Linked DNA regions of Homo sapiens: region 2 is linked to region 1. The links come from fine-mapping of genetic effects on gene expression. Tissue or cell type: whole blood. Region 1 holds a variant in brackets; the other region holds the start of a gene. All regions are shown on one strand. Distances are from middle to middle.

Region 1 (2,684 bases):
ACTGCCAATCACCCCATCCTACCCCAGCCCCAAGCAGCTGCCACTCTTACTTCCCAACTCTGGATTTGGCTACTCTGGAATTTCATCAAGAATGGAATCAGGCTGGGCATGGTGGCTCACGCCTGTAATCCCAGCACTTTGGGAGACCAAGGTGGGCAGATCGCTTGAGCCCAGGAGTTCGAGACCAGCCTGGGCAACATGGCAAAACCCCATCTCTACAAAAAAATACAAAAATTAGCCAGGTGTAGTGGCATGTGCATATAGTCCCAGCTACTTGGGAGGCTAAGGCAGGAGGATCACTTGAGTCTGGGAGGTGGAGGTTGCAGTGAGCTGAGATCCTGACACTGCACTCCAGCCTGAGCAACAGAATGAGACCCTGTCTCAAAAATAAAAAAAGAATAGAATCATACAAGACGTGGTCTGTTGAGACCGGCTTCTTTCATTTAATGTAATGTTTTTATATACTTTACATAGTGTAGCTTTACATAATGTCACGTGTCAGAACTTCGTTCCTTTTTATTGGCCAGTTGGTTAATACTTTTTGAGTGGATATTTTATACACTTCAATTTTTCCCTTCTTAAGGTCGTAGAGTATCAGAATTATGCCTTTAAAAGTATATACAGTTTTAAAAGGTATTTATGTTATATATTTTGGTATATTTCTTATTGCAAAATTGATGTTGCTTGTGCTATAAACAGTACAGAAGTATGTAAAGTAAAAGTAAAATCAAAACTCCTTCCAGCCACTGAGAGCTTTTTTTTTTTTTTTTTTTTTTTTTTTTTTTTTTTTTTGGAGACAGAGTCTTGCTCTGTCACCCAGGCTGGAGTGCAGTGGCGCGATCTCGCCTTACTGCAACCTCCGCCTCTGGGGTTCAAGCTTTTCTTGTGCCTTAGCCTCCCGAGTACCTGGGAACTACAGGCACTCACCACCACATGTGACCGATTTTTTTTGTATGTTTAGTAGAGACGGGGTTTCACCATTTTGGCCAGGCTGGCCTCAAACTCCTGACCTCACGTGATCCACCTGCCTCGGCCTCCCTGAGTGCTGGGATTATAGGCGTGAGCCGCTGCGCCCAGCTTCAATGAGGTCTTTAAAAAATCTTTGTTCCAGCCGGGCGTGGTGGCTCACGCCTGTAATCCCAGCACTTTGGGAGGCTGAGGCGGGCGGATCACGAGGTCAGGAGATCAAGACCTTCCTGGCTAACATGGTGAAACCCCATCTCTACTAAAAATACAAAAAATTAGCCGAGCGTGGTAGCGGGCACCTGTAGTCCCAGCTACTCGGGAGGCTGAGGCAGGAGGATGGTGTGAACCTGGGATGTGGAGCTTGCAGTGAGCCGAGATCGC[A/G]CCACTGCACTCCAGCCTGGTGACAGAGCGAGACTCCGTCTCAAAAAAAAAAAAAATTCTTTGTTCCTACAAATTGCCTTAGTAAACATACTTGTACATACGTTCTTAAATTTCTTACTGGTGTTTCTGTTGAACATACTCTAAAAGTAGAATTATTTGGTCAAAGGACATATACAATTAAATTTGGCTGATGAGACCAAATTGCTCACCTCCCTACAATTGTCCCACAGGTCGTTGCTCTGCTGTTCCCACTTCCCATGCCCTAGCCAACTCTGTAGTTTATATTTCTTGTTCGTTTGTTTGTTTTGAGTTTTTCTTTTCCTTTTTTTTTTTTTTGAGATGGAGTCTTGCTCTCGCCCAGGCTGGAGTGCAGTGGCGTGATCTCGGCTCACTGTAAGCTCCGCCTCCCGGGCTCAAGCAATTCTCCTGCCTCAGCCTCCTGAGTAGCTGGGACTACAGGTGCACGCCACCATGCCCGGCTAATTTTTTGTATTTTTTTTAGTAGAGATGGGGTTTCACCATGCTAGTCAGGCTGGTCTCGAACTCTTGACCTCGTGATGCGCCTGCCACCTCAGCCTCCCAAAGTGCTGGGATTACAGGCGTGAGCCACCGTGCTGGGTCTTGTTTTTCTTTTTTTGAGACAGGGTCTCGCTGTGTTGCGCAGGCTAGAGTGCAGCAATACAATCACATAGCTCATTGCAGCCTCAACCTCCTGGGCTCAAGAGTTCCTCCCACCTTAGCTTCCAGAGCGGCTAGAACTAGAGGCACGCACAACCACACCTGACTAATTTTTTTGTTTTAGTTTTTTGTAGAGATGGGGTCTCGCTGTGTTGCGCAGGCTGGTCTTGAACTCCTAGGCTCAAGTGATCTGCCTGCCTCAGCCTCCCAAAGTGCTGGGATTACAGGTGTGAGTCCCCAAACCTGGTCAAGTTTATATTTCTTTTTTTTTTTTTTTTTTTTTGAGACAGAGTCTCGCTCTGTCACCCAGGCTGGAGTGCAGTGGCGTGATCTTAGCCCACTGCAACCTCCACCTCCTGGATTCAAGCAATTCTTCTGCCTCAGCCACCCAAGTAGCTGGGATTATAGGCGCCCGCCACCACGCCTGGCTAGTTTTTGTATTTTTAGTAGAGACAGAGTTTCACCACATTGGCCAGGCTGGTCTTGAACTCCTGACCTTGTGATCTGCCCACCTTGGCCTCCTAAAGTGCTGGGATTACAGGCGTGAGCCACTGCATCTGGCCATATTTAATTATTAATGAAATTGGGTATTATTTTTGTGTTTGTTAGCCATTTGTATTTCTTCTGTGAGTTTTTTGTTCATATTCTCTGCCTGTTTT
Region 2 (2,684 bases), 490 kb before region 1:
TGTCGATCCTGGGAGGGAACAGTTAAGAGTCCGGGCAGGATGAAACAGTAGAAACTGGTGAGTGAATGAATGTGAAGGCTGAGGAGCGACTGCAATTTGTTAATGGGATTATGAGGCAGTATAAAGTGGTTAATTACGGTGGCGGAGGTAAGCAGGAGTAAAATGATGGCTTTTAACTCCTCTCAAGGACACCGAAAATTATTTTAATAAACACTGGAAGGCTGGGAATAAATATAATTCACACCATTCTTACTTTCTTGGTTTAGAGATAGCTTATCTACATCCTTAAATTAATGGCTGTAGCTACCCTCTGCATGGCTCCAAAAAAAAAACAAAAAACAAAAAACAAAACCAAAGCCGGCTGCGAGTCTGCACGAGAAAATCGGGTTGCACCAGGCCCCAGCCGCCCGCCGATTCGCTTAGCTGTCGGAGGCTAAATAAACAGCTCCCGAAGCAGCGTTTGGCACAGCGCAGGGTCGGAACGTGGACACTAATTTCCGCCCACGCTCCCCGCGTCCTGGCGGGATCACCACAGACACGACGTCCATTGCTGGGGTCCTCGGCGATGCCCGTGTGCGCAGCCCCGCGAGTCTCAGGTCAGAAGACCACTAATTTCGCGGCCGCGTTCCACGAAGCTAAGGGGCAAAAAACCAGCTTTCTTGGGACAAAGCGTCCCCCCAGCAGCCAGGGTCGATCCCGGCGCTGCTCCCGCGGCGCTTGGCTGCCCCGGGCGTAACGGGCCACGAGAAGTAGGGGGTGGGGCGCCGCTTAGGTTTGGGAAGACACGAAGCGGCTCCTCGGGCTTCCAGCGTCCACTTCCTACGGCAAGCAGGAGGAGACAAGCGCCACCCTGCGCTCGCGGAGCCGACCCCGGCTCTCCCCTCCCGTGGCCGCAGGGGTCGTGTGTGTGTGTGTGTGAGTGTGTGTGTGTGTGCAGGGACGCTCCGCGCCCATCACTCTGTTTCGGTGCTAATCGACCGCCGTGGCGCCGATTTCCCCCGCTTCCCAGTTCCTCACCCGCGTGCCCCGGAAGGCGCCCGGAGGCCCCCGGGCCGCCGCGTCACGCTCCCGGGAGGCTGAGGGAAAGGGAGGCAGCCGAGCCGGGAGCCCGGGGAGGCGCGCTGCGCCCCGCGGCGGGGCTGGGGGCGGGGCTAGGTGTCTCGCGCAGGGGGCGGGGCGCGGTGACGTCGCGGGCGCCTGGGCCGTGCTGTGGCGGCGGCGGCGGCGGTAGTGGCGGCGGCGGCGGTGCCTGGGCGGCAGCAGCAGCAGTAGCGGCAGCCCTGAGGACGGTGAGACGGCCGCGGCGGCGGCGACAGCGCGGAAGTCGCGCGGGACCCAGAGCTTCCCCCCTGTCGCTAGTGCTGAGGCTTTCGCCTTTCCTACCCAGCTTCTTGCTCACGGCCCGGGCTGGGCTGGGCAGGGCAACGCGCCCCCGGGGAGGGGCGGAGCTGTAGGTGAGGCTTCGCGACCCCCTCCCCCTCCTCGGCAGCCCGGGGGGTGGGGAGGGGCGGGCCCCACCCAGACCACCGGCGCCCACCCGCGGGCTCCACCCAGCCGGGCTCCGGGATCGGGCGGGAGCCGAGGCGGTAGATGTGGGGATCCTGGGGCGGGAGGTGGGGGAGTGGGGACTGGGGCTCTGGGCACTTGGGGAGCGGAGGGGGGGAGGCTTAGGACTAGTGAAGCCGCGGACGAGGTAGTGGGGAGACGGAGAAATTGGGGAGCCATGAGGTTGGGGTGCGGTCAGGGTGGATCTTTGGGTTAGGTGAGTGATGTAAAATGCTGAAGATGATTCTTTTCTTTTCGATGAAATGGTGAGATAAAAGATGAAGTGTATTTCAAAAGGACGATGAGCTGTGCATGTTGCCTTTGAGGCAGTTGCAGAACCTATTTTATTGCACTAGATCTCACGTTTCTACTTTAGGGTTCGATTCTTTTTCTTCTGGCGGGGTGGGTGGGGGGTCGGAGAGGGAAGAGAATCCCCTTACTTTGGCTCAGGTAAATTGTGAGCGTGGATGTATCTGAAAGTTTTACACCGAAGAAGAGGGAGATCTTCGGTTTAGACAACTTCGTTCCGGCAGCCACCATTTGGGTCGCATTACGCTTAGCTCCTTCAAGGTGGTGTCTTCCAGTTTTTTTTCCCCCCAATGCCTAAAAGATCTCTTTATACCACCCTTTTACAGGCTTTATCCTGGCCCCTTGAGAGAAGGCCCCAAACTCAGGTGGTTGCTTTGGAAGGCACATTGCTGAATAATAGTTGCAGGTGGTTGTGGTTGACTGCTTTGGGTGGATAAAGTGAACAATTGGAATAGTTCTGTTGGAGCTAATTATATGAAAAATGCTTAAATGTTTTAAAGTACAACCGTCTTTTATAGCGTGTTGCTTGCTCAGTACACCTTGACTTTTAGACATTTTGTGTTCAGTGCTAAATTGTTGAAATTTTATTTCTCATTTGCAGTTATGTTTCTTGCAGTCTTTATTAAAACACTTTAAAATGAAATGGAACTCTTTTTTTTTGGTAGGCTCCTCAATTTCTGAGAAATGTTCTTGGAGTCAAGTGCTTTAAAAACATTTTGGGGGCAGGTGTGTCACTTTGTATGGAAATATTAGAGTAAGCAGTGTTCAATGTTCTTCACATCACTCTTTCACAACTTAGCACTGTAAATCAGAATCTTCTTTTCTGGATT

The links. PIP is the estimated chance that this variant, and not a neighbour inherited with it, causes the effect.
Region 2: it holds the start of ERC1, and the variant in region 1 is fine-mapped to the expression of ERC1 in whole blood (INTERVAL, PIP above 0.99).

Annotation. Positions count from the first base shown.
Region 1 is chr12:1,482,915-1,485,598 of GRCh38, forward strand. All of the region lies in intron 18 of ERC1 (ELKS/RAB6-interacting/CAST family member 1), which reads left to right. Among named protein-coding and RNA genes, the nearest start is that of LINC00942, 16 kb to the right of the region's middle. The variant A/G (reference allele first, on the strand shown) is at 1,348.
Region 2 is chr12:990,034-992,717 of GRCh38, forward strand. It overlaps ERC1 (ELKS/RAB6-interacting/CAST family member 1), which reads left to right and starts at 1,190. Exons shown (of 19, transcript NM_178040.4): 1 at 1,190-1,289. It also overlaps a transcript of RAD52 not described here. RefSeq lists enhancers at 21-583, 1,145-1,706 and silencers at 405-454, 865-974, 995-1,504, 1,710-2,004.